Regions from separate parts of the Homo sapiens genome. Here all the other regions are reported to be linked to region 3. The links are microRNA targets in miRTarBase. Many come from high-throughput screens and were not tested one by one. Region 3 holds a microRNA gene; each other region holds the end of a gene's coding sequence.
Evidence for each region. Region 3 holds the annotated microRNA hsa-miR-4287 (UCUCCCUUGAGGGCACUUU, at 1,115-1,133, shown strand). A microRNA usually pairs through its seed, bases 2 to 8, with sites in the 3' UTR of a target mRNA and lowers its output. Matches are read on the target gene's strand: a 7mer-m8 pairs with bases 2 to 8, a 7mer-A1 pairs with bases 2 to 7 and ends in A, and an 8mer does both.

Region 1: the mRNA of MYOCD is a reported target of hsa-miR-4287. Seed matches in the 3' UTR shown: 7mer-m8 at 1,629-1,635, 7mer-A1 at 3,611-3,617 and 8mer at 4,041-4,048.
Region 2: the mRNA of FAM210B is a reported target of hsa-miR-4287. Seed matches in the 3' UTR shown: 7mer-A1 at 1,755-1,761 and 7mer-A1 at 2,130-2,136.
Region 4: the mRNA of SLC7A6OS is a reported target of hsa-miR-4287. Seed matches in the 3' UTR shown: 7mer-m8 at 3,165-3,171, 7mer-m8 at 2,732-2,738, 8mer at 1,149-1,156 and 7mer-A1 at 852-858.
Region 5: the mRNA of EMX2 is a reported target of hsa-miR-4287. Seed matches in the 3' UTR shown: 7mer-A1 at 474-480, 8mer at 539-546 and 7mer-A1 at 717-723.
Region 6: the mRNA of SP9 is a reported target of hsa-miR-4287. The part of its 3' UTR that is shown has no 7-base or 8-base seed match.

What each region holds. Positions count from the first base shown.
Region 1 is chr17:12,762,902-12,767,006 of GRCh38, forward strand. It overlaps MYOCD (myocardin), which reads left to right. Exons shown (of 14, transcript NM_001146312.3): 14 at 172-4,105. The coding sequence ends at 743. ARHGAP44-AS1 (ARHGAP44 and MYOCD antisense RNA 1) reads right to left here. Exons shown (of 2, transcript NR_104607.1): 2 at 1-817. Among named protein-coding and RNA genes, the nearest start is that of ARHGAP44, 25 kb to the right of the region's middle.
Region 2 is chr20:56,365,491-56,369,490 of GRCh38, forward strand. It overlaps FAM210B (family with sequence similarity 210 member B), which reads left to right. Exons shown (of 3, transcript NM_080821.3): 3 at 581-3,173. The coding sequence ends at 797. It overlaps AURKA (aurora kinase A), which reads right to left. Exons shown (of 9, transcript NM_198437.3): 9 at 3,900-4,000. Among named protein-coding and RNA genes, the nearest start is that of FAM210B, 8.5 kb to the left of the region's middle.
Region 3 is chr8:27,883,116-27,887,220 of GRCh38, reverse strand. It overlaps MIR4287 (microRNA 4287), which reads left to right and starts at 1,105; the gene lies at 1,105-1,182. All of the region lies in intron 7 of SCARA5 (scavenger receptor class A member 5), which reads left to right.
Region 4 is chr16:68,297,774-68,301,878 of GRCh38, forward strand. It overlaps SLC7A6OS (solute carrier family 7 member 6 opposite strand), which reads right to left. Exons shown (of 5, transcript NM_032178.3): 5 at 261-3,632. The coding sequence ends at 3,502. It overlaps SLC7A6 (solute carrier family 7 member 6), which reads left to right. Exons shown (of 11, transcript NM_003983.6): 11 at 1-4,046. Among named protein-coding and RNA genes, the nearest start is that of SLC7A6OS, 11 kb to the right of the region's middle. RefSeq lists a silencer at 213-507.
Region 5 is chr10:117,547,809-117,551,913 of GRCh38, forward strand. EMX2 (empty spiracles homeobox 2) reads left to right here. Exons shown (of 3, transcript NM_004098.4): 3 at 257-1,738. The coding sequence ends at 424. Among named protein-coding and RNA genes, the nearest start is that of EMX2, 7.1 kb to the left of the region's middle. RefSeq lists a silencer at 1-184 and enhancers at 1,881-3,225, 3,164-4,105, 4,084-4,105.
Region 6 is chr2:174,337,280-174,341,366 of GRCh38, reverse strand. SP9 (Sp9 transcription factor) reads right to left here. Exons shown (of 2, transcript NM_001145250.2): 2 at 2,867-4,087. The coding sequence ends at 3,827. Among named protein-coding and RNA genes, the nearest start is that of SP9, 4.4 kb to the right of the region's middle. RefSeq lists an enhancer at 1,200-2,832.

The sequences.
Region 1 (4,105 bases), not on the chromosome of region 3:
CCAGAGGGAAGATGAATTGGAGATTGATAGAGCAGCTTAGAGATGAGACTGGGTGGTGAGCGGTGACCAGGGAAGCGTGGCCATCTTCTGTATCTAAGTGTAACTCACTCATATTGTGTGGCATGCTCAATTTGAAGTGATTTAACAAGTCACATCGTGTATTGCCCACAGAAATGCCAGCAGACGCTAGAGAGGATCACTCATGTCTTCAAAAAGTCCCAAAGATACCCAGATCTTCCCGAAGTCCAACTGCTGTCCTCACCAAGCCCTCGGCTTCCTTTGAACAAGCCTCTTCAGGCAGCCAGATCCCCTTTGATCCCTATGCCACCGACAGTGATGAGCATCTTGAAGTCTTATTAAATTCCCAGAGCCCCCTAGGAAAGATGAGTGATGTCACCCTTCTAAAAATTGGGAGCGAAGAGCCTCACTTTGATGGGATAATGGATGGATTCTCTGGGAAGGCTGCAGAAGACCTCTTCAATGCACATGAGATCTTGCCAGGCCCCCTCTCTCCAATGCAGACACAGTTTTCACCCTCTTCTGTGGACAGCAATGGGCTGCAGTTAAGCTTCACTGAATCTCCCTGGGAAACCATGGAGTGGCTGGACCTCACTCCGCCAAATTCCACACCAGGCTTTAGCGCCCTCACCACCAGCAGCCCCAGCATCTTCAACATCGATTTCCTGGATGTCACTGATCTCAATTTGAATTCTTCCATGGACCTTCACTTGCAGCAGTGGTAGAATGCCCAATGCACCAGTGCTATGGAAGACCAATGGAGTTCCATGGGGGAAAGCACACAGCCATACATACTTTACTGTCCAAAAACAGAAGAAGAAGAAGAGAATTAAAAAGAAGCAATGATTTCTGTGCCAATGAACAAGAACAAAAGTCATTTTTAGAAATACATATACTGTAATATTTACCAACAGTCAGTAACTGTTAATGATTTCAACAATGCATTAAAAGAATGTGCTTTCTCAGATTAAGGATGCCAAAAAAGATATTTCACTGCCTTTTCAAAGACCAGTATATTTTCTAGCCCATAATTTTTCTCAGGCATTGTTGGGGCATAAGCTCACACTGTAAGCTTTTCTCATGAATTCACTAGACATAACGTGGAAGGAAAACGTAGTCTTTTGGGAGTACAGGGAAGCCAGCCCCTCAAAGCTTATGGAAGACATACCTGCAATGGAAGCTGTTGCCCAATGTCTCCATTACTATCTTTCAAAAGAGAAGCCAGACCCAGCTTCAGATCAAAAGTTCTTGAGACAGAGGAACAAAACCAATCGATTTCCAGGGAAGCTAATCAACTCTCTTTTCCCTCTACCACAAAACTGCCCTGCTGGAGTGGTTCTGAACCTGTACCCAGGACTCGATGTGGTCACTAATAACAATTAACCTGAACTGAGTCCACAGAACTCCACTCGGAACTTTCTTCTTTTTTAACTAGTGGCCCAATCATTCCCACCATCTCTGTGCTGATAAGTACGTGTCCTAGATGAGAACCCTGAAGAATGCAGACCTTCTTCCCCCGAAGGAGATGCCACAAGCTCTCCAACACAGCCCCCTTTAGTTCCAAAGACTAGAGATGACCACATTGGTAGAAGTATATCTCGAGGCACAGGAAGGGAGCCCCACCAGGGATAATTCAGACAGGACTAGAGAATAACATCATTTCACATACCCTGGGATAAACACCCTGGGTTCCTATAGAAGGACTATTACTTATGGGAGTCCAACTTCTCCTTTTGTTTTGTTATTATCAGTTTATCTTTCTCCCACTCCACTTTTCCTTCAAGGTACCAATCCTTTCCTGTTCCTCGTTTGGCCATCTTTCTTTTTCTGCCTCCACATTGGGAGGGGAGGACTTCTCAGTTCTAACAAGCTGCCATACTCCTAAGAAAGCCATTTTTGAAAAATTTAACAATCCAGGTTCTTCTGGAGAACTCATTCTCCACACGCACAGTTTGCTGCAAAAGGAAGTTGCAAGAATTTCTTGAGGAAGAAACTGGTGACTTGGTCCATCAGTCACGAAGTTCTTTCTATTCTCGTTTAGTTTTCAAGAAATTATTGGTTTGTGTTGCTCTGGGGAAATTGGAAATCATTACATTGTAAAGACAAATATGGATGATATTTACAAGAGAGAATTTCAGATCTGGGTTTTTGAAAGAAAACAGAATTGCGCATTGAAAACGATGGAAGGAAAAAGACAATGGTCTAATGTGCATTCCTCATTACCTCTCGTGGCTTTGGCTGGGAGTTGGAAAAAGCTAAAATTTCAGAACAGTCTCTGTAAGGCTCTCTGTGGCTCCAGTTCACCATTTTATATTGTTGCATGCTGTAGAAAGGAGCTATTGCTGTTGTTTTGTTTTTTTATTTAAATCACTAAGGCACTGTTTTTATCTTTTGTAAAAAAAAAAAAAAAGTTGTTCACTGTGCACTTATAGAAAAAATAATCAAAAATGTTGGGATTTTAGAAGCTCTCTTTTTGATAAACCAAAGATTTAGAAGTCATTCCATTGTTAACTTGTAAAAATGTGTGAACACAGAGAGTTTTTGGTGATTGCTACTCTGAAAGCTGCCAGATCTTATTCTGGGGGTGGGATGTGGAGGAATACACATACACACACAAACATACATGTATGTATAATAGATATATACATATGTGTATATTATATCTGTGTGTGCATGTATCTCCAAAAGCGGCGTTACAGAGTTCTACACCAAAAGCCTTTAACCCTTAATCTGCTGTGAATGATACCTGGCCTTTCTCACTATGAATTTCTGATTAACCAACCAGACTACACGTTGCCTCTCTGTGTATGACTAACGGCTCCAACCCGATGACTCACAGCTACTTGCTTATCGTGAACAAGCTCATCTTGGCAATGAATATGGATGTGAAAAGACAGAACAGCTTCACCATTAGTAGCTGGAAATGGTATCACAGTCTCTTATAGAGGAATATGAAAGGAACAAGAAAATCATTTTACATTCCTTTTATCTGTATTGTGCTTTAAAAGATCCACATGGTAAATTTTTTATTTTGCTTTTATGTCAGTCATCAGAACCAAAAAAATCCAGAAGAAAAAATTGCCAGTGTTTCCTTTGAAGATGAAGCTACTGGGGAAGAAAACCTTATTAATACACTCCACACATTTGTTCATTCCTCAGCTGTTGGTGTTTTCTTGGGGTCTTGACAAAGCTTGCTGGTCAGTGCACTTTTCAGGTGTCACGTTTTGCTGTTTGTATGTTTTTTCTTCCCCTTACTTCCTTTGGAAAACAAACTCACACAGTGCCCCTACTCTGAGACCTGGGACTGAGTGTTAATTATTTTTTCCTTGGGTATTTCTATCTGAGAGACTAGACCTAGTTAGGAGGCCTCTGTACTTCTCCAGATTGTACCTTTTTATGGGGATCTTTGAGGCTATGACCCAGGACTGATAGATATGCCTTACGGAAGACAAAAGATAAAATGGTTCCTATATCCTAATGCAAACCAACACAGTTAAAAGAGCAGATCTCTGGATAACTGCTCTCAACCTGCTTCTACAGTCTCCACAAACCGCATTCACCCTCTCTCTTCATAGCTCAGACATGAAATTTGAGGGAGAAAACTGGAGATAATTGGGAGAAAATTGATGAAGTTGGCTGCTTCCAGTAGATCAGATAATCCATGAATTTGTCTCCCATTGAGAATTTTATTTTAAATTCTTTTAAACTCTTCGTTGTGTCTTTTGTGATGACAAATCAGGCATGACTAAAAGATGTACAGAGACTTACGAAGATGGTCACATTCAAGTTCCCTAATGCTCTTAGAACCTGAAGATGACCATGTGTAGTTTTCTTAAGACCTCTGAACCCCCATGGTGATGAAGACTTGAAGACATTTGCAGCTATCTGCTGCAGTCTGGTAGATTCATACTTATCTAAAGAAGTCAAAAAATTTATTCGTGCAAGTGCTTGCAGGAAGCCAGTGCTTATTAGTAGTGACCCTGCTTCTATCAACGTTATTGAGACAACACATATTCTATTCTAAGGGAGAAAGAGGGAGGAAGAGAGGGAGGGAGGGAGGAAGAAGAGGGAGGGAGCGAGGAAGGAA
Region 2 (4,000 bases), not on the chromosome of region 3:
GCACCCAGCTGATTTGTTTGTTTGTTTGTTTTGGGGGACGGACTCTCGCTCTGTTGCCAGACTGGAGTGCAGTGGCGTGATCTCGGCTCACTGCAAGCTCTGCCTCCCGGGTTCAAGTGGTTCTCCTGCCTCAGCCTCCCGAGTAGCTGGGACTACAGTCGCATGCCACCAAGCCTGGCTAATTTTTGTCTTTTTAGTAGAGCCAGGGTTTCACCCTGTTGGCCAGGATGGTCTCAATCTCTTGACCTAGTGATCCGCCCCCTCGGCCTCCCAAAGTGCTGAGATTACAGGTGTGAGCCCCCGCGTCAGGCCGATTGTATGTTTTTTTGTTGTGTTGAGACAAGAGTCTTGCTATGCTGCCCAGGCTGGTCTTGAACTCCTGAGCTCAAGCGATCCTCCCACCTCGGCCTCCCAAAGTGCTAGGATTACAGGCGTGAGCCACTGCACCTGGCCACTAAGACTTTTATTCATTCAGCTACTTCATTACATTTTTTAAAATACTGTAAATCTTATAGCCAAATCAATTTCTTCATTTAATCCCTTGCTGTAATAATTGTTTTCTTTGCTTCTTCCCCCCTAGTGGTGTGGACATGCCTGCAATCCTGCTGAAACTCGGATTTAAAGAGTCCCTGGTACAGTCAAAAATGGCAGCAGGCACAAGTACCTTCGTGGTGGCCTATGCAATCCACAAGCTGTTTGCGCCAGTGAGAATCAGCATTACGCTAGTCTCTGTGCCCTTGATTGTCAGATATTTTCGAAAAGTGGGATTTTTTAAACCTCCAGCTGCAAAACCTTAATGAACTCTTCAGTCGTACACACTGAAAACCTATTTCTTCTAAATTACATGATTTGGATTGGTTTTAGGGTTTTAGGGTTGTAGGGTTTCTTTTGGAGAGGTAGGGGGCTAATTGCTATGTTCTCATGGATAAACTTTGCCAGCAAAAATCAGGCTTTTGAACAATTTTAATTTTTTGCCTCATAAATTTTGTGAATGCTATTCATTATAGGGCTTGTATATATAATCTAAAATGTCAGCAAGGCATCGGAGATGGGTTAACATCTCAAAACAAAATAGCCTACAAATGTTCCTTGTGGGAGACTTTGGCGAGGGTCTGTGGGTAAAAGCACCAGGGGGTTAATCTTGGCTCAGTTTCCTAAAAAGCATTGATTAATTTAACTGGCTTTTAAATATCCCCTTCCGCTGATATTTGTTGTCAGCTGCCTACAGTTTAATATGCAGCGTTCACAAAACAGCTGCCAGTGCTACAATTAATGAAGCAAAACTTAATATGTAATCACAATCTAAATTAGCATCAATACTTTGACATTCATTACATTGGTTTGGGGGAAGAAAAGTAGTTCTGGTATGTTTCATTGATCCCCAGATACCTTCCAATCTGGACATGATGGGGCTGATTCCAGATGGTTTTTCTGAAATTTCATTAAGGTAGGTCAGCGTCATTTGTCTCTGTTTAGGTAAAATATAAAAACCCTGCCCAGTAGCAGTGGCATCGCTTGGTTCCTGATGCCCATGTTCCAGAGGAATTCGGATACCACAAACAGCTAAGACAATCTCAGCTTTTCTTAGACAATCTTCTATCTCAAACTTCAGACATTCCAGAATTGTCATGATGTTTACACTGTCTGAGTTAAAAATCCTGTTCAAGAAAAAAAAAGATTTTGTATCACTTCTTAAAAAGGAATATTCATAGCACTTGTCACAAATAGAAGGCAACCATGAGATAATACAAGCCAGGGAGAGGCTTGTATTACATGACAGGTGTAATTAGTCTGCTGAGCCAGCTTTACCCAATGAAGGGCATATGTGTTAGAGAGATTAGCTAAGAGTAGAAATTCGAGCATAGAGGCCAGGTGCGGTGGCTCACGCCTGTAATCCCAGCACTTTGGGAGGTTGAGGCAGGCGTGTCACTTGAGGCCAGGAGTTCGAGACCAGCCTGGCCAACATGATGAAACCCCGTCTCTACTACAAATACAAAAATTAGCCGGGTGTGGTGGCACACGCCTGTAGTCCCAGCTACTGGGGAGGCTGAGGCAGCATTGCTTGAACCCAGGAGGTGGAGGTTGCAGTGAGCCAAGATCACACCACTGCACTCCAGCCTGGGCGACAGAGGGAGACACTGTCTCCAAAAGAAAGAAATCCCAGCGTAGATCCAAACTGAGACACTGAGGCTTCGTCCTTATAGTAGTCAGGAGCAGGCGATTGAAGTAATTCTGTCCTGCGGGGTTCAGCATCATGCACGTTCCCCCTGGGCCATTCTCTGATGCAGGGCACTTGCTCCACACTCTGGGAACCCAGATTCACCAGTCTGCCCTGTCACGTAGTTGAAGGAGTTGCATTTATCTTTCTGGCTCCTAATTCCTTTAAAATTACATTTGTTGCAGAACCTCCACAAGGCTAAATAAAATTACATTTGTGACCATCAGAGAACTGAATAAACCATTAACTGGCCATCCTGGTTTTGCAGAGATCAGGTTGTTGACAGTTCCTGGTTGACCCACAGCTACCCATGTCAGTTATCTCCACTAACATATCCAAGAATCTTTGTAGGACAATTTCTCCACCTGCAAGGTCTTTCAGGTAGAACTCTTCTTTTAAGGCAATTAGCCCATTGCCAAAAGGTTTTACTGTCTTAAAGCTGTCTTTCTGAGATCTAATTCCAAGGACTTCTCCACAGCTAAGTGAGATGCCTCACACCATTAGGTGATGCTTTGGACAGAACAGAGTATTTTCATCTTGTGTTTAAAGCAATTCCTTGGCTTCGGCTCCTCACCACTTTCTATGCCAGTCTCCCATTTATGTCCCTAGTAATGCCTATGCAAAAAAAAAAAAAGAAAAAAAAGAAAAACTGATGGTGAAACCTACAGGTTTAAGGGCTTAAATCTCAAACTTTGTTAGGAGTAACAGGAGCGTGCTGAGCGGGCAAGCAATAAAACAAATCATACCAAAAAGCCACATTGCTCTCTCCTAAGCCCCAACCCCACTCCACTCCTGTGGCCAGGGGTCCAAACAGAAAATAACCGGAGAAGACAAGGAGGTCAAAGGATCAGGGAACTAAGCATTATGTGAATTCACCAGCAAGATGTACAGAACGCCTGTGTTTACATTGTTTTTATGGAACTAGCAGAATAAAACATCTATTTTAAAAATGAAAGCCATTGTTTCTCTAATTTATCTGACAAAGTGAGCAGCTTAAATTCTGTGAAACATCTTTATAGTTTATGAACTTTTTTATATTCCTTCTGGTAAGCCATGGTTGTTGCTGATGATGAAGTGGCACTGTGACCAGTGTATTAATGTGCTACTACAATGAGCTTTTTCTTTGCTTGTGTGGGATTGTCTGGGGAAACGTCCCAAGTCTCACTGGTGTCACTGGGAAAGTCAGTCACGTGATAATAACTATAGCTTGGGAGGGTGGCACATGAACTATTTGGGAAGGTCAAAGTCAGTTCAGCTCAAGACTATGAGAACCAGAAGCCCCTTTGTCCCAAGGGGGCTGGCAGCTGCAGTTTTACTGAGTCATGTTTTTAAGTTTCTCTATATTGGCCACTTTGTTATGACATATCCTGACATACCTGCTGTCCAGTTTCTTGCACTGAGCATTGGCCATGCAAGCAGATTTCTCTACTAGCTCTAAGTTCAACACTTCTACTTTTCCTTCATCACAGTCACTTTCACCGTATCTTTAGTCGATGGACAGATGACAAAGATATGACAAATATATAAACAATATATATAATGAAGTATTAGGAGTACACCCAACAGGAGAGACCAGAAGAGGCAGGACTAGATGAGGGCGAGACCTGCTCCTCTCAGCCCCTGCTCATTTCCAGGCCAACAATGAACAGATGGTGGAAAGAATTACACAGCACTCCACACAGACATAGATACTTATTTATTTGCATATTTAAAGTTTACACACATGCTATGACTCCAATGTTTTAAAAAAATAAGCCCTTAACAGCTCTGAGACACATGGCC
Region 3 (4,105 bases):
TGTGGTATGATGCCAAGGAGGAGGTGAAGGTGCCTCGCAGTCATTGAAGGGCAGTTACTAGGGGACGTGGCTGCAACCTCGAAAGCCTGGGGTCCCATTGCTCATCACCAGCTCTCTTGCCCTTTGCCCTCTACCTGGAGCATCTGCTCTTGCTTTGGAGCCTAGGAGTCTCTGAATTTCACACAATCAAGAATCCCTGTCTCCCATTTTCCTCCACTGCCACGTGCAGAGAGAGGCATCTCCCTGACTCCAGTAGCCCCGTTCCCCCTGCAGGGACCCTCCTGGGGGGCATCTGAGGAAAAAACTCCCTGGACTGACAGGAAGAGTCTTGGGGAAGTCACGGACCAGGCTGAGGCTGCCTCTCAGTCACCACTTCTGATTAAGTCGGGGCTGACACATTGTGGGGCAAGAGCATTTCCCAGTGGTGGTTGGTGGCTTGGTGGGAAAGCTTTGACCTGGGGCAGAAACTGCCGGGAAAAAGCAGCATTTAAACCCTCTGCCCACAGAAACCCAAACCTCTTAAATGATGACGTCCTTCTCAGGCTAGAGGGTAGTCACTGTTGGAGGGCGTTGGTGATTCCCCAAGTGTGTTGCTGGAGGTGGCCTCATTGCTCAGCTCTGGGAAAGGCTCCTGCCTGCCTGCCTCCCCTATACCTCTTCAGGGGTAAAGGAGGCCAGAGACACAAGTTTCTGAATTTAGACTCTGAGTTCCTGAATCAGGGCAGCCTACATCATAAGCAAGTCAGACCTCAGCCTGTGGTTTCCCAGAGAGGTGGTAACAGAGCTGAGATTTTGTTGGGTGGGGAGAAAAGGATGCAAAATCCACAGCTTAGGGCCATGCTCTGTGAAGTGGAGCTACAACAAAATGTGGCCTCTGATTTGGGTGAGTCCAGGGGAGAAGGTGTGGCTTTCAGATTTGTGTTGACCCTGCTGGGGCAGGCAGCATCTGTTGACCCTGTGGGCAGGCGGCCCTCCACCATGGGGGGAAGCCCTGAGTCTAGGGGATCTGGGGACAGGTGGTGAGGAACAGGCCTCCATGCTTAATGAACCGACACTGGGGTCTGGGTGGAGTGGTGCCTTGTGCAGCCTCGCCCAGGTGCTCTCTAGTTCTTTTTCTCCCTTGAGGGCACTTTTCAGTTCCTGAGATCAATGTGGTCCCTACTGGGGAGACCATAGGAGCCCTGCAGGCCATGACTTTGCTCAATGCATGGTAAGCATGGGCCATGGGCCAGAGACATCCTTGAAATTGATGCTTTGCATCCCGTGATTATGGTTATCATATGTTTTCAATTTTTTGAAGGTGTCTTGTTTCCAAATATTCTTCTATCACTTCTATATACATTGAAACCTCTTGGGAATTTCAGTATTTCAGCATCCAAATGACATTTTCCAGACTTCCCATTGCACCCACCATGATCATCTGACAGCCATGTCCCCATTCTCTCACTTGAGATGTACGGTCATTGTAACAGCCTGAGCTCTGGGTCCAGAATCCAGAGTCATCTCAAGTAGAGAAGGCAGCAAGTATGTGATTAGAAGTGTTGTGATGTAATAAAGAGGATGCTGGAGATTTGGGGCCCTGATGTTGGATTCTCCATTCAGGTTGCCACCAAAGCCCTGGACTCTGGGGAGCCATGCCCTCCAGCCAGCACCTGCCCATCTGGGTCCATATTAATGAGTCCCTCCATTCATGCATGCCTTCCCTTTGCACAGGCTGGGTATCTCAGTGCACCGGGCCCTGTACCAGGTCACGTGATCCTCAGAAGGCTCACAGTGTCCTAAGAGAGTAAATAGCAATAGCAATTATGACACAAAGCTATAAGCATGTACCTAGAAGGGGCCCTGTTGGGTGTGGGGACCAGGGAAGGAGAAGAGGCATCTAAGCTGAGATCTAAAAGACAAGGAAAGCTTAGGCCAGAGTACAGAAAGGAGTTTTCTGAGGTGGGGGAGTCCACGTCCTTCCTCAGCTCATTCAGGTCTCCACTCAAGGCCTTCCTTCTCTACTCGTCCAAAATGGCACCTGCTCTCACTCCCCACCCTCTTCCTTGTTCACTTGTCCAAGACAGTACCTGCCCTCTCATTCCCTCCCTTGTCCACCTGTCCAAGATGGTGCCTGCCCTCTCTCTCATTTCCTTCCTTGTCCACTCGGCCAAGATGGTGTCTGCCCTCTCTCTCATTTCCTTCCTTGTCCACCCGGCCAAGATGGTGCCTGCCCTGTCTCTCATTTCCTCCCTCCTCCACTTGTCCAAGATGGCGCCTGCCCTCACTCTCCACTCCTTTGTTCACTTGCCCACAATAGTGCCTGCCTCACTCTGTACTCCCTGTGCTTCTGTTCCCATCTATGCTCTTATCACCGCTTGGCTATAATTATGGTTTTGTTTTTGTTGACTAGCTGTATTGCTAGACTCTCCCTAGAATGTCAGCTCCATGAGGGCAGGGACTCTGTTTGTGGGTGTATCCACAGCTGTCTGATAGACTCTCAGTCACTTACTTGGCTAAACGAGTAGGTGCACAAAGTGAGTTCAGGCTGGCCAGAACAGAGAGGCTAAGTCAGGGAGTCTCCGACCGTCTACCTTGGCTGCCTAGTCACACCCAGTCACACTCTTCCTGTTGTTTTGACCCCACACCTGACTTCTGCCTGGCCTGCTCTGTGACTCACAGCACCCTCCTGCCACTTCTTGCCCTACTTGCTGACCCCACACTGTGGCTTCTGTTGCAGGCCTCCTGGTGCAGCCAGAGGTGAGGCAGGTCTGTGAGAAACCAGGGCTGACAGCCTGGCCTCAGCCAACCCAGGGCCAAGGCCCCGCGCAGCGGCCGGGTCCCTCTTGGTGCTGCTGGCTGCAGGTTAGCCTGTCCTTACTGCTCCCGGGGAGTTTCTTGGTGTCAGACCCAGCCTCTGAATTCCAGCTCTTCTCCATGTTTTTCTTCTCCAGGATCTCTCTGTTGTCTTGCATAGCCTCAGCCTGTTTGGGGACAGCCTGAATGAGTTTGTATTTGCAGTCTGTGTGGGGAGAACGGTCACCTGGCCAGGGATGAAGGATCCGCAGCAAATACATCCAATATCGAGAGGAGGCATCCCTGGTGCTCTCGCTGTAGTCTTTAGCATCATTCCTGGGGTTGGGGTCGCTTCCTGGTGGCTTCCTCGGTTCCTCTGCAGAATTTTCTGGGGTTTTCTTGGCCCAGGCATGTGGCCAGTTCTGAGTTCTCTCCTTTCTCATGGGGCACAGATGTCAATTCTGCCATCTCCTTCGGGACCTATGAAAGTCTTTGCCAAGTCACAGTCATTAAAAGGAGGCTCCTTCCAGCCCACTTGGCCAAATACAAGATAAAGGAAAAACAAAAGTCCAGGAGTGCCGCGCTTATTAGTAGCAGGGCTTGAGTAGGTTTGTTATTTTCTCTGGCAGTTCACATGGGCATTTTCCTGCATTGTGTCACCCACTTGTCACTGGGTTCCAGTACAATGTCCACCCCTACCCCACATGACACCAGTGGATTCTGGCTTTAAAAAGAGATGACCCTGATTTCTTCTCTGGCCTTGGATTACTGAGGGTTGGAGCTAGAAGGAACCTTGCTGATTGACCCTCTAATCTAAATGCCAGTCCACAGCCCACAAACCAATTGTTCTGAATTATTTGGGACACTTGGAAAAATAGAGATCCCTCACTCTTGCCACCAAGATTCTCTTTCAGTAGGTCTGGATTGGCCGTGGAATCTGGTGTTCCTAATGATTTTGATAAGACCCACTGACCACTCCAGTATCTTATCAAGTGAGGATGCTCAGGTCCCAGCAGGGGAAATAGCCCCCAAGAGTAGTGGGGCGGGCAGGATGGTGAAAAGGATGTGGGAAGACACATAAGGAAACGCAAGCTGTGATCCCAGCTCTGGCACTGACCATGTGTTTCACCCTGAGACTATGACTTCCCAGCCAAACCCTGGCTTTGTGATGATCCAAAGGCTTCTTTCAGTTGCTCTGGTGTTCTTTGGGTCCCCAACATTTCCCCTTGGAGAACCAATGCATTGTAATGCTCAGGAATGGCTCTCTACTACATTCTGCAAACATTGATTTTTCATTTCCTCCAGCCAGGCTGTGTGCCAAGCACTGAGT
Region 4 (4,105 bases), not on the chromosome of region 3:
TTTCTTCCTCTGGCTCAAAATTCTTCCCTGGGGAGAGAGTTATATTCCCTTATTTATTGATATTTAGTCCAGAACACCAGTTCTAACGAAGCATGCGTGTCTCTTCATCTACAGGATGCAATAGGCTGATTGTATTTAAAAATCAAAGTACCCAAAACTGAGTCCCTTTGGGCTCAGAAATGTCTGTGGTATTGGGTCAGACTCTGACCACAGGTTTTATGCTGTTTAGCACAATTTCTATTGAGTCTTACCTGCAACAATGAACCTTAAAGATTTTTTTACTCACGTACCTGTTACACTTTAGCATACAGATAGATCATAGATCACGTTACAAGCACTTGGCTCAGGTCCAGCAAGGACAGATGAACAAATTCCTGAGTCAGAAGTCTGTTAATATTGCTGTTTTGAAGGACAATCCTTTATTTTACTTGAGACCTTACATCTTTGTTCTAGCTGACAGTAAATCTCTGGGTTTCTGTTACGAACTCTAAGAGGGCTGAAACTTCTGATATTCAGGTGGATCACCTGAATTCTCTCAGCTGTCAATGGCTTGGAGAACATCTCATGGGCCCAAGTCATCAAATAACCTGTTCCTCTCTGTAAGGGCAGTGTGAGGGACTGCTGTGCAGACCCAAGCAATCCCAACCTGGTGCTAGGTCATTTCACTTTTCTGAAAACCTCACATCAGGCTGCATCCTCTTCTGTCCCTGGCACCAGGCTTTGTTTACACTTGGAGCCACCTTGGTGTGGGTCACCGGGACAGTGTACTCCTCTCCTGCCAGCCTCCCCTTCCCCGAGGTGTGGTGGCTGCAGTCTCAGGAAGAGCTTGGTACTTGTGGGGACTTCTGTTTTCTCCCTGTGGAGATCAGTGAAGACTGGGAGGAAAGCTGCTTCAACCTGAGTCCGGCTCTTCAGCAGGCTGCACAAGTGGAAGCAACTAATTCTGGTGCTCAGGCTGGGCTCTCCACCCAAGTTAGGCCTGCTCTGGCCTAATGGATCTTACTGTATGAGCAGGACGGCTGCATTGGATTGTACAACTGTTTTGTGATGCCCCCAGACACTGTCATCCTGGGCCGAGAAGAACCTGCTAGCTTGACATACCCCATGGGCTTATCCTTAGGTTTTGGAATTGGTCAACAGTGAGGCAGTCTCCCTTCCTGACCATTCTTCTCCACCCAGTCACAGATAAGGGAATAACCTTGGCCATATATTTGCTCAATAAAGATTGAAGGAAGCATGGTCATAGTTGCCCTGGGTTCAGAGCATAATGCATATGTGAAGCATGGGGTGACATTCCTACTGTCATGGGTTTGGGATTTGTAACGGCAAATTCCTGCCCGACGACAGGGTGTCTTATGCAAAGGCTGACTTGCCTGAACGCTAAGAACATGACTTCTGTCTGAGCTAAGCTGGCACCCATCCCAGGGCTCCTCTGGAGCTAATCCTTTAAGCAAAATGTGCTTGCCTTTTAAAGATCCCTGACCCCAGCTTTAGCTTTCTCCACCAGATAACCAGCTAATCCCAGGAATTTGCTGCCCCCCACCAGTGGCTTCTAGGGAAAGCAAGGACCTCACATGCCAGGTGCCCTAGTACTTGCTTAGTGAGCCATGTCATCCTCCTTTCATTTTTGGATGGTGACAGCATTTTTCCCCTCTGTGCTGGATACAGACTTCTCCCAGGATCCTCTCTTTGGGAGCGAAGCCAGAGGATCCCTACAGCACTCAAGCTTCATGGTGGAATTAATTTCTGCCAGCTCTTTGTTGTCTGTCTCCTTAAATCCTTTTCCTGGTGTGCTTATTATCCCTTTTGCAGTGAGTACAGTTTATTAAGTTGTCAGCCCTTTAATATTGGGGAAACTTAATGAGTATAAATAGCAGGGAGCACATTGTAACAGCACAGTGTTTTGTTTTTTTCACCCGGTTGCTGTATGAGAATGGCTTTCAATCCTTTGTTTCTATGCCTACAGACAGAAAGCAAGATGTCTAATATTAGACATACAAGTTGCTGCCTGTTATAACGGTGAATTATACCTTTGTGCATGCCTAGGATGTTTGTTGTTTTAATTAGCTGCAATATATACGGCCTGTGTACACAGAATTTAATCACTTCGGCAGGTTGAACAACTCCATGTAGATAAGAGCAAGTGTAGGCAAAGGTTTAGAAAATGGACATAAAGTCAAAGAATGATGGCAGGTAGGATGAAGGAGAGATACTTAGGAAATCCTAAAAGAGGCGGCAAGAAGGTACCTCCCTGTGTAACTCACCTTCCCCCATGACAGTGAGTAAGAGACACTCACAGGCTATGAGGGTACACCCCTAGCTGAATGTTCTGTGTTGTTTCCTTAGACCTGTGGTGTCCGCTGCAACAGCTACTAGCCACGTGTAGCTAATTACATTAAAATGAAATAAAATTAAAAGCTCAGTTTCTCAGTTGCGCTAATCACATTTCAAGTGCTCAGCAGCCACCCGTGTCTACTACTACACAGTGCAGACACAGAACATATCATCACTGCAGATAGTTCTACTGGACAATGTTACGCTAGAATAAACACCAAGGCAGTCAGTTAAGGCAGCTATGGTTTGGAAAGGCATACGGACAGAGTCTGCTTAGAAGAGATACAAGTTGTTAATAAAATTGATCCTGTTGATAGTAGTTTGTTTTTGTGGTGGGTGCTGTGAAGAGTAAACATTACTCAGTGGAAAGCTAAGTTCAGAAGGTACTTTGTTTTTCCTCCCTTGCCTTAAGTCCTTGGTATTTATAATCAATGCTGAACCTTCTATTTCACTACCGCTCCCTGTTTTAGATATTCAGATTTAAAAGGTTTTCAAAGAATTACTTTCTTCCATGTTCAAAGCTAGATTTTACTAAACACATGTATCACATTCATATATATTGTTTCTTGGCCCCACTGCCAAAGGAAGTCAGTCAGTAATTTCACAACCGTTATCAGAGTTTGGAAGCAGAAATAGCTGTTAACTAAAATCTCCCACTGCTCAGACTACTTTCTGCCCTAATGGCCATTACTATCCAGTCTGTATTGCTACAAGGGACCCACTGGTACCCCTTTTAGATTCTATCAAAAGGAACAGGGTTTTCCTAGAGGCAGGCAGCCTGGTGGTATGGCACAGCAGAAGCTTACTGCTAATGAAATGGGAACCTCCCCCTCCCTTGTGGTTTCAGCACAGAACCTGAATGCCAGGAAAAATTCCTGGGCCAAGAAGCTAAAGCTAAAGAAACCTTCCTTTTTTCAACGTTTTTTTTTCTTTCAAACTGTAGGGTCACTTTTGATTGAGGCAAAGGGGTCCTACTGTAAGTGGAAAAGACTCACTCCCCTAACATAAGTTTTCACTGTGGTGGGATGGTGCCGCCCGATATGCTTGATATGCTTTTCCTTCCACATGTTAAGCTAGGAAACCTAACAGGATGTCAGCAGGGCAGTTAACTCTGGACTCAGAGCCCTCAAGGGCATGTGGCAGAACCTCATGGACATCACAAGACCATCAGTCTGAATCCAGGTCGTGGGGGCTGTCATAGCCGAACTCCTTCTGCACATCCAGAGGGTACTTGCTCCACATCCGCTGTCTGCTGCTGCCTCTTTCCTCCTCACTCAGGCTGTTGTAGTCAGCAGAGCCTAGAATGACATCCCGGGAGTGGATTCTAAATGTGATTTTCCTAGGCTACTGCAGGAGCCCCTTCTCTTCTCAGAAAGGTCTGTTTTTGTTCCCGATTGTAATGCAAAATCCTTGCTCAATAAATAAAAAAGAATATAGAATTCTTTTTTTTTTAAAGAAGGAATCACTTTCCTATCATCTAAACCAAGTTCCTTCACACTGGAGTATTTTGTCACTTCTCCCCTCCGTGGAGTATTTTGTCACTTCTCCCCTCCGTATAGGATTTTTTGTTGTTGTAAGAGTTGTAGTCATATTGTAAATATTTTTGTACCTTTCTCCTTTTAACGTGTTATTGACAAACCTCCCCAAAAGAATATGCAATTGTTTGATTCATTTCTCTGTTATCAGACACCAATAAATTCTTTTTGTTGGGCCTTCTTCTCTCTTCTTTAATATAGTTACTACGGGAATTATGTTGTCAGAGCATCTTTCT
Region 5 (4,105 bases), not on the chromosome of region 3:
CGGGCCACAGGGCCCTGGGGAAAGGCTCTTCAGGAAGCCTCAGAAGGGCAGGGAGCTGGGCTTCTGTTCCACCACGCACTAGCGGCCCTGCTCCCTGAGGGCAGGCCTTGGGGAGGCTGGACCTTAGGACTTGCATCTCGGGGGCTGGGTCTTTGCTGAGTCTGGAACTGGAGTCTGGGCTGGGTGAAAGGATCAGGCACTTGATAGAAGGGTGCTCTGAAAGAACTAACGCACCCCATCTGCCTCTCACCCGCAGGTAAAAGTATGGTTTCAGAACCGAAGAACAAAGTTCAAAAGGCAGAAGCTGGAGGAAGAAGGCTCAGATTCGCAACAAAAGAAAAAAGGGACGCACCATATTAACCGGTGGAGAATCGCCACCAAGCAGGCGAGTCCGGAGGAAATAGACGTGACCTCAGATGATTAAAAACATAAACCTAACCCCACAGAAACGGACAACATGGAGCAAAAGAGACAGGGAGAGGTGGAGAAGGAAAAAACCCTACAAAACAAAAACAAACCGCATACACGTTCACCGAGAAAGGGAGAGGGAATCGGAGGGAGCAGCGGAATGCGGCGAAGACTCTGGACAGCGAGGGCACAGGGTCCCAAACCGAGGCCGCGCCAAGATGGCAGAGGATGGAGGCTCCTTCATCAACAAGCGACCCTCGTCTAAAGAGGCAGCTGAGTGAGAGACACAGAGAGAAGGAGAAAGAGGGAGGGAGAGAGAGAAAGAGAGAGAAAGAGAGAGAGAGAGAGAGAGAGAGAAAGCTGAACGTGCACTCTGACAAGGGGAGCTGTCAATCAAACACCAAACCGGGGAGACAAGATGATTGGCAGGTATTCCGTTTATCACAGTCCACTTAAAAAATGATGATGATGATAAAAACCACGACCCAACCAGGCACAGGACTTTTTTGTTTTTTGCACTTCGCTGTGTTTCCCCCCCATCTTTAAAAATAATTAGTAATAAAAAACAAAAATTCCATATCTAGCCCCATCCCACACCTGTTTCAAATCCTTGAAATGCATGTAGCAGTTGTTGGGCGAATGGTGTTTAAAGACCGAAAATGAATTGTAATTTTCTTTTCCTTTTAAAGACAGGTTCTGTGTGCTTTTTATTTTGATTTTTTTTCCCAAGAAATGTGCAGTCTGTAAACACTTTTTGATACCTTCTGATGTCAAAGTGATTGTGCAAGCTAAATGAAGTAGGCTCAGCGATAGTGGTCCTCTTACAGAGAAACGGGGAGCAGGACGACGGGGGGGCTGGGGGTGGCGGGGGAGGGTGCCCACAAAAAGAATCAGGACTTGTACTGGGAAAAAAACCCCTAAATTAATTATATTTCTTGGACATTCCCTTTCCTAACATCCTGAGGCTTAAAACCCTGATGCAAACTTCTCCTTTCAGTGGTTGGAGAAATTGGCCGAGTTCAACCATTCACTGCAATGCCTATTCCAAACTTTAAATCTATCTATTGCAAAACCTGAAGGACTGTAGTTAGCGGGGATGATGTTAAGTGTGGCCAAGCGCACGGCGGCAAGTTTTCAAGCACTGAGTTTCTATTCCAAGATCATAGACTTACTAAAGAGAGTGACAAATGCTTCCTTAATGTCTTCTATACCAGAATGTAAATATTTTTGTGTTTTGTGTTAATTTGTTAGAATTCTAACACACTATATACTTCCAAGAAGTATGTCAATGTCAATATTTTGTCAATAAAGATTTATCAATATGCCCTCAGAGTAGTCGTCTTGGGAAATTGAAGTGGATCTTTAAAAATGTATCTCAGTAATTTGAGTGTGGTCCTTCCCCAACTAGGCTCAAGAAACCCAGGCTCCTCACCCACAAAAGGGCCAGATTGATGGATTCTCAGGCATTTTAAAGAAAGATGAGGGTGGAGAAGGGAGAAGATTAGGAAAACTTAAGTCCTTCAGAAAAGAGATGGGAGAAAAGTTTTTCAACCAGACTTTGCCCATTGTATGCCCTCCTGAGGGAGTTTAGTTTGAACTTCAGGTTAAAATGCTTACTTCTCTTAACCTCTGGTTATTAAAAAAAAACTGGACATATAGTTACACATTGAGGACTACTCTCCCAAAATATTGGGGAAAACATGTAGCAGAATCTTGCAACTTCTAAACTTTCTGACTTCAAACCCCAAAGTACAAGTCTTACTTTTCCTTCCTTTCTTTCCTCCTCTCCCTGGCCCCAATCTGCTGAAGGTGATGGGCCAAGCCCAAGGGCCTCAGCAGCCTTATAAGGCAAGTGTTCTGAAAAACCTTCAACTCTTAATTTTAACATTAAAGAAAAAGTTGTAATCAGACTTGGAGGAAACTTAGCTTTTTTCCCTCCCTCCTTCCCCCTTCTGGGGGTACGAGGTTGTTTTTGCATGCTTCATTTGCTTCTTATCCTGATAGGCTGCATTAATCAGTTTTATTTCCATTGATAGAGAAACCTCGTCTGTTCTGTTCGAGCTACAAAGCGTCCTGCGAGCTTTTGTGAAAGTGCAAATCAGTTTAAGCAATTATCATACCAGGAATATGAAGGGGAAAGAGGAGGCCTTGCCCAGTGGTCTCCTTTAATCTCTTAATCCACGGATCCAGGGGGGCTGCCTGGACATAATTTAGGACAATCTCCCCACCCTTTACACTGTGATAAGGCCAAGTTACAATGCAGGGCAAAAATACAAGCTTTGTTAACATCTTGCCTTGAAAAGTTAAGATTAGACATTCCGTGCACGTGTGGGGACTATAGGGCACTATGGAAATTTTTTCTTTTTTTTCTCCTCTTCTCTAAAGCAGAATTCATTCTCCGTCTCTTTCTCCTTTCCCCCATCTCTGCCTGTCTTCCACCTCCCCTCTTTCCCCCCATTTCTGTCCCTCTGTAGAAACCTGGCTGCTCATAGTGCATTTTCACAGACTCTTCTTGGAAGGTGTGTGTGCCGTGAGGGGATACACCGCCGCCGGGAGTTGCCGGGGGAGGAGGGAGACGGGGTGGCCTCAGGAGACCCGGGCTTGCGTCTCACAGGGACAGGTGCGCCTCGGGGTATCCTGGAAACCCTCGTGGGGCTTCCAGGCGCTTTGACAGCACGACCCTCAGTGACCACCAGCTGTCTCAAGCGCTTTGCAGTCAGTGCTCCCGGAAAGCATCCCTTTCTCTTCAACAAGTACAAATTACCTTTTCCTTCCACTCACCTTCCAAAACCCGGAATACCTCAAACACCGAGCTCATTCTTAAACATTCTTAAAATTCAGATGGTCTGTCCAGAAAAAAAAAAAAATTCCGTCTTAACAGAAGGTTTACTTCTGCCGAAATTATATACTTTATACTTTTTAAGTACAAGAAAACGGGGCTGGTGGTGAAGATTTTTCTTTTTTTGGGTAAATGTCCTATGTAGTGTAACAGCAATAAAATCATCACAGAATACTATTAGCTTTGAAAAAAAAACTAAAAGCTTTATTACAAACCAAGCTTTGAAAATAGGGGGGATTAGGCGGCTGAAAGGGTCCCACAATGGTAAGAAGAAAAGGTTTCATGCTAATGAGGTTAATGCCCTTTGTATCTCAGGCCTCCACATCTTCATTACGCGCTATCTCCGGCTGCACGGAGCGGCTCAGAGAGCCGCAATCCACTCCAACGCCCCCCTTCCCGGCCCAAAGAAGGATTTGATAGCAGCTCTGTTCAAACTAGATAATTATATCTTTTCAAGTCGGAATTAAGATAAAGAAAGTGAAGCAGAGGCGGCTCGCCTTGATCCACTGCAAACAAATTTGGCGCACTTTCGAGTCCTTCCTCCGCCTCAAAAAGGCAGGACAGTCAGCTTATTAGCCGCTCGTTTGCTTTATTAATTCATCTATTTAAAGTGGCAGGATTAGAGTGTCTAATGTGGACGCGGGCTGCCGTGGCGCTGAGGAATATAAATATTTGCGAGATGCCATCCCACGATGACTATCTGGGAGTGGGGCGCGGGGCAGGGTGCGCGTGTGCCCTGCCTCTGCGTTCCCTTCGCAGTGCGCGCGTGCTGAGCTGAGCAGGGGGTTGTAGGAGCCATGAGCCGCAGGTCTATGTGCCCCTTCGTGCTATATGGGTGCCAGCCCTGGATGCTCCCGG
Region 6 (4,087 bases), not on the chromosome of region 3:
AAGAAATTCAATTTTACACGACTTGTAACGATTTGACGGAAAGTCCAGACGCACCATTCAGGTGCACAATCTAATCTAGTCAAAATAATGTTGTTTCCCTCCTCGAGGAAAGAAAATCTCTTTCTTTTCTTTTTCTTTTTCCTCATCAGGTAGAATCCAATTCATTCCAAGGGCAGAAAACTGGTGTCAGAAAAGGAAACGCTGGAGGATGGTGCGGATCGTGGCTGGGTGGGCGCAGGGCCGAGGAAAACTTGCTTTTCGTTCCTCTGTTGCGCTGGAAGCTATGGGACAGGAAATGCCAGGGAAACCGGGGGACTCGAAATCGCACTGCCCTTACCGGGCCCGGGCGAGACTCTGGGCCCCCAGGCCGCGTCCCCCGCCCCCACCGACCTCCAGGCCGCTACCCGCCTCTGAGCTTGGGCCCCTGACCACCGCCTCCAGCTCCTTCTGGCCCCTGAGCCGGAAAGGCACAGGCCTCTGGGGCCCCGAGGTGGCCCTGGGGAGGCGAGGCCCCACCGCAATTGGGGACCGAACTCGTGTTGTAACTGGCGGGATCTCGCCTCCCACGCGCGCTGTCTCCAATTTGGTCATCACCGGCCGGCCGGTCGCCACCCGCTCAGGTCAAGGTTCCCCGCGCCCCCAGGGGCGCCTAGGGCTTGGGGGAGGCCGGGCAGGGGGCCTAGGCCCTGTTTTCGCCTGTTGGCTTCGGCCGGGGCCCCGGGGCCCCGCTGCCTCTGGGCTCAGGTTCCGCGGACTGCTGTCTCCCGGCTGGACGCTCGGTCCGGGGCCGCCGCCCGCCGCTCCCGGGAGCCTGGGTGATGGACGTCCGCTGACCCGCGGGGCAGAGGCAGCGCACACAGGCCTTGATCACTGGCCTGCGGAGGGAGCCGCGCGGCCAGCGGGACCTGCACGACCGGGCCCTTTGATCTGCCTTTATTATCAACGAGAAACAAAGCTCCCTGGGCCCGACGCCCGGGCGCCCGCGTTCCTGGGGAGACCCACCACACCCTCTACTCCGCGCCGCCAGCCCGCGGCCCCCAAACGCGCCAGGCACCCTCTGGGCCTCCAGTGCCCCGGCCCGAAGCCCCTCCGGAAAACGCGTCCCTGCCAGCCGGCTCTCCGGAAGACCATCCCCCGACCAGAGGCGCTTAGGGAGTGGGGGGCTCCCGGTTATGAACAGCTTGATCGGGGAGAGAAAATGGCCAAAGTGAAGAAAAACTCGAGTAAGAAGAGCGGGGCAGCCTGGCCGCGGGGAGCTCAAGAAGGAGAAGGAAGAAGCCATTGAATGTCACGCTGCAAACTCCCTGCTGGGGACCTTCGTTCTGTTTTATCGCTACTTTGCGACTTGGTGTTTCAGAACAGTTTCCGAGAAAACATTTTGCTGATTGTTAATAACAAGAATTTATTTTTTCTTTCCTAAAAATCAAAATCTTCGCTCAAATTCCCAAGGCGGACAGTAATCAAAAATGGAAAAAAAAAATATGTTGGTGCTGACTTCGCTTGTATTTCCTCTTGTGTGGGAAATCTTTTAGAAATATTTTTATTCTGTAAATATGTACTTTATTTTCTAAATTAACATTTTTTTCGAATTGCGAAATTATCTCATTTACCAATTTTCTTTTTGTCTCTCCCTCTTTTCTCCCTCTTTTAAACTGGGGCTGTTAAGTTGGTGGTCAGAAGACAAAGAGAGTGAAAATAATTTTCATTTCAATAATTGCCTTCTGGTCAATTTAACTGTGCCTTATTTTGAAAGAGACTGTCTAAATGAGATTCCTGTCCCAAATGTGTTCCCAGGCCTGATCCCAGCCTTTAATTATTCCTGAGTTTTTTTCTTCAGAATAAGACGCCGCACTGAGTAATCACAAAGAAGTCAGAGAGCATCCTTGAACCTTTTCAGAAGCAGCGCCACTGATATTCAAATAACCTGCGAGGGCCATTTGACGGCGCGGGGACCTAGGCATTTCCAATTCACTATTTGCATAGATCAGCCGTCTTTGAAAAGGAAAGGAGCAGTTGTCTTCCATAACATTAAAAAGCCTAGTTATCAAATCAAGTGCTTAGTTTGGGGGCTTTTTAAAACGTTTACATTTTATCTCAGGTTGCCCTTTACCGTTTGACATGCAAATTTGGTGCAGTTAATTTAGACAATTAAAAAGATCTTCAAGGGAGCTTTGTCACAGAGAATATTTGGAGTTTTCCCCGCGGACCAGCTGAGATAAAGTTGGCCAGAACAAATGATGTCTAGGAGATTAATTAGATATTTGATAAGACATGAATCCCTAATAAGGGAATACAAGGCACAGGGGGCTGCTGTGTGCTCTAAGTCAAAATTAATAACATTTAACAAGATTTTCATTTAGGCATGAAATGTCTTTTCCGGGGTATTGACTCTAGCGATTTATTCCCTTGAGTTGCCTTCCAACATACAGGGCCTTGGGAGCTAAAAGACTTCTTTTTTTTTAAGCGTTTTCCTTTCACAGTTGTTTTTAAATCACTTTTTAAAAACAAACAAACCCACCAGAGTTTTCTCTGACCCCTCCCAGAGGTTTAGGCACCTCCCCAATTAAAGCTGCCAAGGACCTTTGCATTTTTTAGGCGCTCCAGAGTTTTAAAATGTCACCTTTTGAGAGCCTTCACATTAAGTAATACAACTACACGTCCTTACAACCCAATTTAATTTATGTTGTTGATATACAAATAAATAATTTTGACTTCTCAAAAACGTATATGTAGTATGGCTTTTATAACCCACATAAACTTTACATTACCTACAACTAACATTAAGGGAATTTTTTCCCAACCGAAAAAAAAATCGACCCACGAAAAGGTTATTGAGGGGGAAACAGGATTTTTAAAAAAGGAAATGTATTGTTCAGAGTCCTTTAATAATACCAAAATGAAAATATGATGTCAAGATTTTCTTGATACAGATAAACGCATTTAATTTCTTTAGATGACCTTAACTTACGTGTTTGTGAGTGAAATGATAACTCAACATTTTAAATATCTTTTACATATATACTGACTTTCACAAAGTGCATCAGAAAATTAAAAAAAACTCCCTGAATTTCAGGGATTCACCCAAAAAAACTCTATTCGAATGAACATTTACAAGAAAATAAAAGAGAACACAATCTTTTGAACCCTATTTATACAGATGTTATGAAATACAGAGAAACTGTCGCTAGACTTCCAGTTTAATTTCTCACCTTAAGCCTTTTGATGCTTCCTTTTTTAGGAAAAAAGTCTCATTGTAAGTAGATATCAGGCAGGACTTGGAGCATTTTATATATAATATAATCCAAACAAAGGGTGTTTTTATCGGTCCCGTTTGTTTTCAAATGTTCTGACAGTCCTTTGCTGGGTGGTGGCTTGTTTTTGAGAAAAGGAAAGAGACGGGTGTTGGAGGGAGGTGGAGAGTGGGCAAAGAGGGAGCCTTTCTATGTATTGCTCTTCGCTCGAGAAGTTTGGGCGAGTGGTATGTGTGTGCGCGCGCGAGTGTGCGTGCTTGTGGTTGTAGGTCTCCGGTGTATGTGTACGTCTGGGAGTACAGTTTTTAAAGTGTTTGTGTCGGAGGATGGTTCGCTTTTGTTTCCGGACCACGCGTTCGATTCTTATCCGGGCGCGGAAGGCAGAGGGGAGCTCCTCGCACAGCGGGCGAACCGCAGCCCGGGAGCCCTGAGCGGCTCCACCTCGCGCCCAGCCCGGGCCCTGGGGGCGTCACTGAAGCCCCTGCCCTCCCGCCTCCCGCTCGCTCGCCCTCCGAACCTCTCGTTCGTTCTCGGTGTCTCTACTCGCTTGTGTGCTCGCGCCTCTCGCCCGGCCTCTAAGAGTCGTTGGGGCCAGACGCTGCTTCCTTGCCTCCCGCGGAGGCCGCCGCCGCCGCCGCCGCCGCTGCCGCCGCCGCCGCTGCCGCCGCCCGGGCGGCACTGACGCCGGAGTCATGCAGGATGAGGTCGGGGGATTCGGAACGGGGCGTCTCCAGGTTGCTGGCGTCCGTGTCACTGTCGCTGCCCTTTTTGCCCCCGCCGCCCCCGTTGTGCGTCTTAATGTGTTTGCTCAGGTGGTCGCTGCGCATGAAGCGCTT